Linked DNA regions of Homo sapiens. The protein of the gene in region 2 interacts with the protein of the main gene of each other region in a biochemical or structural test. Each region holds a gene or a part of one and is shown on either strand. Other genes may lie near its edges. The genes, in order: TOP1, IRF8 and IRF1.

The links.
Region 1: the proteins of IRF8 (region 2) and TOP1 interact in a test that uses a peptide from one of them, tested with the Homo sapiens proteins (one study listed by BioGRID).
Region 3: the proteins of IRF8 (region 2) and IRF1 form a complex in vitro, tested with the Homo sapiens proteins (one study listed by BioGRID).

The regions. Positions count from the first base shown.
Region 1 is NC_000020.11:41,115,607-41,119,428, forward strand, and holds part of TOP1 (DNA topoisomerase 1), read left to right. Parts: intron 1-671; coding exon 672-786; intron 787-2,562; coding exon 2,563-2,690; intron 2,691-3,822. UniProt on the Homo sapiens protein: Releases the supercoiling and torsional tension of DNA introduced during the DNA replication and transcription by transiently cleaving and rejoining one strand of the DNA duplex.
Region 2 is NC_000016.10:85,902,162-85,905,761, reverse strand, and holds part of IRF8 (interferon regulatory factor 8), read right to left. Parts: intron 3,546-3,600; exon of another isoform or gene 2,902-3,545; coding exon of another isoform or gene 2,873-2,901; intron 2,748-2,872; coding exon of another isoform or gene 2,747-2,747; coding exon 2,573-2,746; intron 1-2,572. UniProt on the Homo sapiens protein: Transcription factor that specifically binds to the upstream regulatory region of type I interferon (IFN) and IFN-inducible MHC class I genes (the interferon consensus sequence (ICS)). Can both act as a transcriptional activator or repressor.
Region 3 is NC_000005.10:132,488,871-132,492,692, forward strand, and holds the start of IRF1 (interferon regulatory factor 1), read right to left. Parts: upstream 1,904-3,822; 5' UTR 1,675-1,903; intron 614-1,674; 5' UTR 609-613; coding exon 522-608; exon of another isoform or gene 1-521. UniProt on the Homo sapiens protein: Transcriptional regulator which displays a remarkable functional diversity in the regulation of cellular responses.

The DNA.
Region 1 (3,822 bases), on a different chromosome or scaffold from region 2:
GTCAAGAGAAGACACATCTGCTGCAGAACAACTGCTAAAGCACTCAGGGTGGGGGGTAGATGAGCCCTACCTTTTATCCTTCCCTGCTCCTGCAGAGCTTTCCCTTCACTGAATGCCCAGCCACCCCTGCTGGAGACCCAAAACCTGTCCCTGATATCTTAATAGGGAAGGAAAAATTTGCTTTATTGGTTTGTTAAGCCCACCAACCTGGGCCAGGCTTGGTGGCTTACGCCTGTTATCCCAGCACTTTGAGAGGTCAAGTAGGGCAGATCCCTTGAGGTCAGGAGTTTGAGACCAGCCTGGGCAACATGGCAAAACCATTATCCAGGTGTGGTAGTCCACACCTGTAGTCCCAGCTGCTTAGGAGCCTCAGAAGGATTGCATGAGCCCGGGAGGTGGAGGCAGCAGTGAACCGAGATTGTACCACTGCACTCCAGGCTGGGTGTCAGAGTGAGACCCTGTCATACACACACACAAAGATTGAAATACTTCATAGAGAGGCATCATGTAACCCTGTATTCTGGAATTCTTTTCCTCTTTCCCTAACTTCCCACTTGTAGGGCAATAAACTTGACAAGATTGTGACTGCACTGGCATAAATTACTCCTAGGGCTGCCAGAAGGAGCAGGTAGTATAGCTTTGACCTAAATCTGTTGCTTTGTCTCCTCCAGACTGGTATTCTGAATAAGCATCTTCAGGATCTCATGGAGGGCTTGACAGCCAAGGTATTCCGTACATACAATGCCTCCATCACGCTACAGCAGCAGCTAAAAGAACTGACAGCCCGTAAGTATTGCTTGGCCAGATAGGGCCCACACCCCTACTAATGGTATCCGGTGACCTTGCTTATCTAAGGCCTAGAGTCAGTTCTACTTTTTTTCCCTACCATTGTGGTCAGACACTTTTTCCCTTTAGACCTCTAGTAGCGAGATAATGCTTTGTTGTATAAACATAGGATCAATGCTGTTTCCCCCTTCCCACCCCAACTTCAAGATTAATTTCATGGAATGCTGACAGCTTTTCACCTGCTACAAAAATGCCTGCATTTGTGTTTTATACATATATTACTTAAAAGCCCACAGAGTGAAGACAGTGCTGTGATGTTCTGTTAAATTGGAGAGAGTAAAGTTGTCATGGTTACCAGAAAAATACAGGAACAAGTCCTTTCCTTGAGGTTTCTGTCATTTTTTTCCCATAAGAGAGTAGATACTTTCTATAGCTGATTTTTAGAATATTATCACCAAGATCCACGGGCTTTTTTTTTCCTGGAGCCCAGTCACTATTGAATTTCCACTGCCCTCTGTAAATACATCAGATGGCCTTAGAATATGAACCAGAAAAGCCAGAGGTAGGTATGTTGAGGGTCAGTATTTTAAGGTGGTATAAAGAATGCCACACTATACAAATAAAAACAATTTTTTTGGATGGCATTTTTAATTTTTCTTTTTAAATAAGATACTACCAGGCCATGTGCAGTGGCTCACACCTGTAATCCCAACACTTGGGTAGCCGAGGCAGGAGAATCACTTGAACCCAGGAGTTCCAGACCAGCCTGGGCAATGTAGTGAGACCTTGTCTCTACTAAAATTTCTAAAAATTAGGCAGGTGTGGCGGTGTGCACCTGTCATCCCAGCTACCTGGGAGGCTGAGCCCAGGAGTTTAGGGCTGTAATGAGCTACGACCATACCACCGCACTCCAGCTTGGGTGACAGGGTGAGACGCTATCTCTAAAATAATAATAATAACCATAATAATACTACCAACTGTGGCTTAATTTTTTTTTTTTTTTTTTTTTTTTTGAGACGGAGTCTTGCTGTCACCCAGGTTGGAGTGCAGTGGCGCGATCTCGGCTCACTGCAAGCTCCGCCTCCTGGGGTTCACGCCATTCTCCTGCCTCAGCCTCCCGAGTAGCTGGGACTACAGGTGCCCGCCATGTCGCCCGGCTAATTTTTTGTATTTTTAGTAGAGACAGGGTTCACCGTGTTAGCCAGGATGGTCTCGATCTCCTGACCTTGTGATCCGCCCGCCTCGGCCTCCCAAAGTGCTGGGATTACAGGTGTGAGCCACCGCGCCCGGCCAAAATTTTTAAACTTTTAACGTCCCTTCAATTCCTCGTTCTGTTCTGGCTACATTGGGTGGAGAGGTGGGGAGGTAGGAAGTGGCCAGTATAGAACTTATGAATATGGGCAACAAACCATAGTAATATCAGCAGCACCTATGATGAGCATATGGGTGGGGAGGAAGCAAGGAGATGAAGGGTCCCTAGCCAAGTTCCCTGAGTAAAAAGAAAGGTGTAGATTTTATTATATTACCTAGACTCAGAGTTCCTCTTGTGATAGGAATTTACCCAGGCCAAGCTTACATATAAACTTCCTACTATCATTTTCTTAAGACTGTTGACTCAAATTTTGACCTTAGTCCTTGGGGGCAATTTGAATTAATCATCTGAGTAAGATAAGAGCCAGCAAAATCATGGGGACGAGGCACTGGGGGAAGACATACTGTGTGTTCACTTTTGGTGTACAAACTGACCCTCTTGCTACCATGTTCCTTTCTTTACAGCGGATGAGAACATCCCAGCGAAGATCCTTTCTTATAACCGTGCCAATCGAGCTGTTGCAATTCTTTGTAACCATCAGAGGGCACCACCAAAAACTTTTGAGAAGTCTATGATGAACTTGCAAACTAAGGTATCTTGGATAAAATGAAGGGAACTGTGTCTGCTGTGGGCAGATTATCTGCGAATGAGAGGATTCAGGGCTGAGATATCAGCAGGCCAGTGCTGGGTCTGTTGTAGAAGGTCTATGCTAAAGATAAACAAATGGAAATATGATAGTAGTTAATCTCTGATCAAGATACTGAATATCAGAGTATCCATTATTCAAGAAATCTTTATTCTACGCATAGAAGTTCTATACTGGCCACTCCCTATTTTGAAAAACTAACTTTGGTGTACATTCTAATTGCTAATTACTGTCCTTATTGTACATGAGGAAAGTGGATTTAAAGAGAGTCTTCATAATTCCTTGCTACAGCCCAGAAATACAGCCATTTCCAAATTAGATTGTTTCAAATTGAAAAGATGATGAAACAATTATATATTTAAAGTCTTTCAAATCCTAGCATAGCTATTTTTATTTTTACGCATTCCACATGAATCATATTTTTATATAGTTCATCATCAAACATCTGTTGAATACTGGCCGTGTGCCAGACAACTTGCTGCCCTAAAGGGAAAGACTGGTGTGCAAATAGGTGCTATTCCTTGTCCCTGAGCCTCTTTCCTCCTCCTAACTCCGCCTGGTACTGAGCTTTTAAACCATAAGGCACTTAACATTTGATGATGAACATTTTTGTGTTAGCAGTGACTTCATAACTAATTCATCCTAACATGGTGGTCCACAGTGAGAATTTGCAGATATTTCATTATAGAACAGATACACAGGGTTAAAAAGGAAACAAATTATATTGAAATACAGTTATCAAAATACATTTTAAAGTCCGATAATAGATGTGCTTCCTTATTAAGGTCTTGAGGTGGCCTGTAGTAAATTTCAAGGTAGTAATTAATTAATATCAATGATACTTTAAGATTTCTGCAGCAATTCAAATATGAAATGAAGATGTCTAACATCTATTGATGATAAAGTCATAAGTGCTGCTGCTATTACTATGGTTTGTTCCCCATATTCATAACTGAAGAAGAAATACTAAATTTCAGCTAGAAGCTGGGTGCAGTGGCTCACACCTGTAATCTCAGCATTTTGGGAGGTTGAGGTGGGAGAATCACTTGAGCTGAGTAATTCAAGACCAACCTGGGCA
Region 2 (3,600 bases):
TCTACATAACCGGAAAATCCCTAAGATGGCTCTACCTGACCGAGGTTGACTTCATCCAACAGCCAAAGATCTATCCGGCCAACGTCACAGAGACAGGCCTCTCAGAGGATGGATGGGAAGAAGCATAGCTCAGGGAAGCACATGATGGGCTCTTGCTGGCGCCATGTCTCCACCGGCACTGGTGGCCCTCCCGATGGCCTCCCTGCTCCAGTGGGCACCCGCGTCTCCCTCCTGGCCCCATTCCTGCTGAGATGGTAGACTCATTTCAGATTGCCACATCAGGCGACTGCGTAACCAACGGAAACATTGGGAATCTTGCACATTTTTCTCAACACTGTTGAAACGGCCATGAAGAACATTGCATAAGATGTATAAATCTGGGGCTTTATTTCATTACCCCCCGAGCACAAGTTGAAGTAGGGAATGGGGTGAAGGGAGAAGCTTCGTCTCCGTCAGCATGCCACATGTCAGGGCTACACAGCCTAGTCCAGCACCCTCTGCCATGTCTTAAAGATGTTTTACTGATGTCCAACCTGCAACTGTGCCTTCAGCACCCAACACCTCTGGTTAAGTCTGTTGATCCTGGCAGTGGCCAGCTCTTATCAGGGTTCTTAATGGGGAGGGGAAGACTCTGCCCCACCAGGAGATATTTGGCAATGTCCAAGACATTTTTGATTGTGACAGTAGGGGAGGGGATGCTACTGGCATCTGGTGGGTAGAGGTCAGAGATGCCACTAAACATCCCACAAGGCATAGGGAACCCTTACAACAAAGAATTGCCCAGACCCAGACATCAACAGTGGCGAGGCAGAGAAATTCCGGCTTTTGGGGTTATCTATAATGCAGAGTTCCCAACCGACTGAATGGGACTCTGGCACTGTTTACATTTGCAGTCCTTCCCAAGAGAAGTTCACCATGATGCCAAAGGCAAAAAAAAAAAAAAAAAAAAGATCTGCAATCAAACAAGAGAGAAATCCACAATGGCACTAAGGGTGAGGAGGCAGGCAGTGGCATCACAAAACTTCTTGGTGCTGAGGCTCCCTGACCTGGGGTCCTTGATCAGAAAGAATCTGGAACGTGTGGGGGCACCAAGGGACCCCTCGAAAGTGAGTGCAAAGCGTTCCCTTGTCCCCATATTCCTTGGCGTGGTCAGTAATGGGCATCAGATTCTCAAGAAGATCAGCAACCTCAAATTGCAGATTTAACAGAATTACTGAAACGCACAGCCCCACTGCAAACATCGGTCAGGCAGAGACGTGCAGGACCAAAATGCATCTTAAGCTACCTTTGACCTATTTATGGTCCACTCTGGGGTTAAGGTGTGATCTTTTGTCATTTTTGTTCTCTGGTGTCAGGGGACAGTCATCTGTGGCTGGGAGTCCAGCACTGTCATGGGCTCCTACAGCCTTGACCCCCTCCACACCTTGTTTGTGGTCTCAGGTCTGATTCTGGCCCCCAACAACTCAGCCCCTTTCACCCCTCTCCCACACTCACTCTCCCCTCCCCATCTCTGGCCCCCAAATGCAAGAGAATAAGCACACATGGCAATGGCTTATAACCTGGGCTAGGACTCAGACTACGTGTAGTGTCCACACTGGCAAACGTGGAAGTCTAGCTTGACCTTGACCTTGGGCTCCGAATCTCCCAGAGGTGAAACCTGGACATCTGGAGCCTTAGAGATGCCCACACAGGACTCTGATGACCCACAAGGGATTCGATAGCCCAGCTGGTCTGCAGAGCTGGGCTGCCCTAATTCCTGGTTCCTCTGTCTGAATCTAGGTGTAATGGCAAGAAATCTCTGTTGATCAGCTATTCTGGAGTTAGGACCAAGGGTTCACAGTTGGGCCATCTTGCATCTGAATGCTGGCTCCGTCATACAAGAGCTGTGAGACCTCAACAAGTCACTTCTCCTCTCAGTGCCTCTATAGAATGAGGGTGGGAACAGCATCTACCACACAGGATCATGTGAGCAGAAAACAAGCCGTGGGCCAGGCCTGGCACAGAACAAACCCTCCATCACGTCTCTCCACGCATGGGGAACCGATTACTCTCAAGGGAGGTGAGACTATTTTTAGACATCTGCTGCAGGTTCACAACCCCCCACACGGCCCAGCCCCCAAAGGAATGACAGATGGCATCTCACCCTCCTGAGCTGGCCCTACAATGCCAGGCAGAAGTATCAGCTTTGAAAGAACAAGGACTGAAACCTTCCCTGGTATATGCATCGCCTCTAATGGAAGCCCGTGGGGAAAGGTCTTAGCGTGAAGGTCTCGAAGTATTTTCTCCCACTTGGCTCATCAGGAAAAGGAAGCAGCAGAAAAGAGAAGAAAAGAGCCTTCGATCTCCTCATCAGAATACAAGCGACCACAAAAGTGACTCCGTAATTCAAAAGATGTGAAATCAGCTCATGTACATGTCTGAGACACATTCAGCACTCCTGAACCAATGTTTGCTTTTAAAAAACTGGATTAATTTTTAAGTAAATGAGAAAGATGTCACTCAACATCTCCACTAGTCCATGAGGGAAAGGAGACACTGTGCCCACAGTGGGGAAGGGAGCTGGGCTCTTTACCTTAAAAATGGAGGCATCCACTTCCTGATTATAATCTTGCTTGCCAGCGTGTTTCCAAGGGATCCGGAACATGCTCTTCTCCTCATTCTCCCAAATCAGTCCTGGATACATGCTACTGTCAATCTGCTCGATCAGCCACTGTCGAAGCCGCCGACCACCATTCCGGTCACACATCCTTGGAAAGACAGAAATACACGCTGTGATATTACGGATATTGTCTCATTCATCACAGCAACCCAAAAACTGCTAACAGGAAACTCAGAGGTTTGCAGCAAAGGTGCTGGCTTGGGGGAAACCCACAGATTCAGGGACTCCGGGACACCTGCCATGAGAAGGCAATGCTGGCCTCCATGACCTCACAGCCCTGAGTGCAAACTGAAAGCTCCGTGGGAAACCTGCAGCCACCAGCAGCCCCCTGCAGGCCCCTCCCACTGTGCTGGCTGTGCTCCTTCCAGCTTTCATCTGCCCTTTCCTTTCAGGCAGATACAACCACAGTGAACAGCTCCAGTTTTAGCCCAAGACTGGAAGGAGAGGGGGAATCACTTTTACAGCACCAGGTTCCTTCACTGAGCAGCCCATTATCCGAAGAACCAACTGGGCTACCAGATGCCCAGCTGGCCCCACATTCCCTGATAGAATACTGCGTCCGTGCCGTCTGGGAAAGAGGAGGCCCTCAGGCCAGCCCATCTAAATAGCTGTTCCTTCACAGTGATAAGAGCAGCAGTTTGAGAATGAGACAGAACCGCGATCTCATTCAAGTCCCGCCACCGCTCAGCTGGGAGACGCTGGATCAGCATTTAAACTCAGGGCATCAGCTACCCAGTCCCAGATGCAGCTAACAAAACACTACCTGTACTGGTTGTAAGAGAATTCAGATGCTACACGGAAAGCAACTGAGACAGGGCCTGGACCTTACATGCCAGATGTCATTATTATTATCCAAACTTCCTTCCTGGGCAACTCCTACGACCAACTGAAAGATAGGGACAAGAGTGAGGAAATAAACTGCAGCTACCGAACAGGGCAAA
Region 3 (3,822 bases), on a different chromosome or scaffold from region 2:
TTCAGTAAGCATTAGCTATTATTATGAATACTATCATTGCTACTAAGTCTATAGGGTCTATGTTGCCCCAAGTGCACCAGCTATAGGCTTCTTGGGCCAGAGTGACTGGTGCAAGATTAACTCGTTTGTCCTCTGCTAAGCCAGGCACGTTTCTGCCCAGCAGCATCCACTTCTCAGTCTTCTATTTGTTCGATTGGAGCCCTGCAGAGTGCTGTGTATGTTTGTAAGGGTCTCGCTTAGAGGAGAGCAGAACTCCAGCTCTGCAGATGCTGGAAAGTCTTGCTGCTGGAAACTGGAAGTGCCTTCAGGTGGGTGCCCTACCTCAAGAAGGGAAGAAGGCAGGAGTCATGCAAGTGAGGCCCAGGCTGGGCCGTGCACACTCCCTGCATGCAGGACCCACTGGGAGAAACACCTGCTTGTCCCGTTATCACTTCCCTTTTTGAGCTGCATCTGAAGCTTTGGTCCCTCCAGAAGTACATGGGTTAAAACAGTGGCAGGAAAACCCAAAGAGTTACACTCACTTTATTAATCCAGATGAGCCCCGGGATTTGGTTGGAATTAATCTGCATCTCTAGCCAGGGTCTCATGCGCATCCGAGTGATGGGCATGTTGGCTGTAAAGAGAACACAGAGGCTCCAGTCTGGAATCTGTTGAACAGTACCTGGGCAGTGACCTGCCCCACCCGAGGTCACTTAGTTACCCTCCCCTCACCTCAGCCAGCTGCTAGGTACTACACTCAGTGCGGAGGGGAGCTGCGCTGGAATAAAACTGCTCTCCAAATTTTTTCAGCATCTTAGGCAAAAATGCTTTTGCCCCTTCCTTCAGCCCCTCCCAGCCAGTCTCTGGAGGAGACAGGCATGCAAGTGATGGCTTCAGGATTCATATGCAGGAAAAGAGACAAAATGCACAGATACCCTAATTTCAGAACTTTTCGCTCAAAATTCAAATCCTTTGGGAAGGGAGGGACTTCTTTTGCTTGATGCCAAGAAGAAATTCCCTTGACTTGAGTTGTAACCACTAGCTAGCAAAGGGCTAGCCGTCACCCTGAACAGCCCCCTCCCGCCCCCCTGAATCCATTCTACGCCTTCCTGACAGCCACAGCGCCCACAACGCTAAGACCAGGACGCTAACCCTTCCGGCCCGGTTTCCCCTCCTCTGGAGAAGTGGCCCAAGGAACACCTGTGGCGCCTCTTCCCGCAGTCTCCGTAGGTCACGATTCCCTCCAGCCACCTGGGCAGTAAGCCAGCCCTTGCCACCAGCACAGGGAGCCCAAAACCTGTCGCCTGGGCGCGGAGCTGGGACCGCCGAAAGCCGGGAGCACTGGGCGCCCACGCGTGGGCTGACACTCGGTCCCCGGCACGGCGTGTGGATGCGCGGGACGAACATAGCGGGCCACCTACAGGCCCCTGGCGGCTGCGCGCACGCAGATCTGCGAAAGCTGCCGGGCGCCGGCAGCCTCGTCCGGGTGGGCGGTCCACGCCGCGTCCCGCCCTCCCCGCGCCGCGGCCCGCGGCTCGCAGCTCCTCCGGCGCCCCCCGGAGCCCGCGCGGAGGCCCGGGCAACGCCGCGCGCCGGCGAGTCTCCAGCCTGGAGCTTTCGACCCCCCACTTCCTGGTGCCCCGCGCGCCTTTTATTCGACGCCGCCGGTGCCCCGCGCCTCAAAGGCGTACTCACCTCTGCTGCAGGAGCGATTCGGCGGTCGCGCGCGAGGGTCCCGGCGACGCAGGGGCTGCAGTGAGGGCGCGCGGAGCGCGACTCCGAGTGGAAGAGGGAAGAAGGCAGAGGTTGCCGGGTTCTTAAGGCCGCCGGGCACGGCCGGCGTGGACTGGGCACGGCTCCGGGTGGCCTCGGTTCGGCGGGGCTCGGGCGCACGTCTTGCCTCGACTAAGGAGTGGCGAGCTCTGCCAGGGCAGCGGCGCCACCGAGCAATCCAAACACTTAGCGGGATTCCCCAGCCCTGGCCGGCCCCGCCCCCGGACAGCCGCGCGGGCGCCCATTGGCCGGCTGCGTGCCGTCATTTCGGGGAAATCAGGCTGTTGTAGAGCTAGCGGCGAAGGGGAAGTACAGGGCGGCTGCTCCGCCCCACCCTCTCCGGCCGGGCGCCACCGCCCCGGGGCCACCGCGGGCCCGCCCCGAGCGCTCCCAATCCACCCCTGCTCCGGCTTGCCCGGAGGAGGGCTGCCCGGGACAGCCCAGCGCCCCTGGCCCCAGCCTGTCCTCTCACTCCGCCTTGTCCCAGCCGGCTGGCTCCTGGGGCCATCTTTTCACCCTCCTGGCGGGGCGGGGGCGGGGGTATATCTCCCGAACGCAGGTGAGGGGATCGCCCGGGCACTTGCCGCCCTCTCCAGTGGGAACACTGGGCCGAATCTCCCGACTGGCAGCCTGGCTCCTCAAGCTTGCCAGTGGGATATCAAGAAGGGAGGGTTTCAGTCCTAGCACTACCCCTGTTTTTAGGGGTGACCCCCTCCCTCCAGGTCACTCACCTGCCCTGGGGAAGTGAAGAAGGCAGAAAGCCTACCCTGCCCCGTGTGCTGTCTGGGGCTGCTGGACCAGGGGAAATCCCAACTTGGCCGCTGCTGGCACAGCCCCCAAGGGACGCAGGACCTCTGTTTTTCAACCATAAAATAATAGTAGCCCTACCTTGATGGTTTGCTGTGATGGGAAGAGATTGTAAAGCACTATGCTCCACTCGGGCAACAGACGCTGAGTAGTTTTCAAGGTCGCCGTTGCAGGGTCTAATAGTGACCAGGATGACACCCCACCCCTTTTCGGTCTGCCTCCCTGGGACTCCCCCTGGCTGGCTTTAGGGAACAGAGGAGGAGAAGGGGTTCAGAGAAGCCCAGACGGCTGAGTGAGGGTAGGGGTGGGCTAGCTCTGATCCCTCCTAGCACTCTTGCCTCAGGCCGCCTCCAGAGCCTCCCTGTGGCCCGCGTATGGGAGTTCCGCAATGGAAGCATTGCTGTCATCTCTGAGTCCCCAGGGCTTGGCCCAGAGAGGTTCTGGGCAGCATGGAGGAATTAGCTCAGGGCTGATCAACGCCATGGGGCTAGCCAAAGGGTTGGGGAGCCCAGGTCCCATGCTCCTTGGTAAGGCCCCTACTTAACTCTCGCGCACAACTAGTCCCCGCCCCACGTATAGTCCTAGAGACTTGACTGGGTGTTCATTTTCCATCCAAAACTCTGGCCCAGGAGGCTTCTTCCTTCATCTCCCTAAAGCTCCTGCAGAAGTAAGTTACTCTCCCAGGCGTGTCATTTCCTTCACCCCAGCTCTCCCTCCAGGGCAGCACCCCATTTTGCAGGCTATAAATAGACACACCCATGCAACATTCGACTTGCCAGTCACTCTACCTCCCTCCCGTAGAGGAAATGCATGGGTTAATCCCATTCTGGCGCATTGCAATCTGAGTGCTGTGACCAATGCCAAACCTGGTTCCCAGGATACCAGCAGGAATGGGCAAAACTGTCTACCAGATAGAGGTGGGTCAGGAGCTAGGAGAGGAAAGGAGGTAGGAGAAACTGAGGAAGGAACCTAACTGAGTGTTAAGCAAAGTGGAGGGCAATGACACTCTGGAATGGAAAGGTGGGTTTTGGGGTACTTTAAGTGACAAATGGAAGTGGGGACTTGCTACAGGGACCAAGACCTTCTGAGCAAGAATAAGAGAAAACAAGTGACCCCTGAGTCGTGGGATCCTTTCTTGGTACAGCAAATAGATGCTTGTCCTTCCCCTGAGAACCTGACACATCCACTGGAAAATTCAGGATGAGATTAGGGAAAGGAAGTTTGCATCTTTGTGGTCTGATAAGTTGACCACAGTGACCCTGT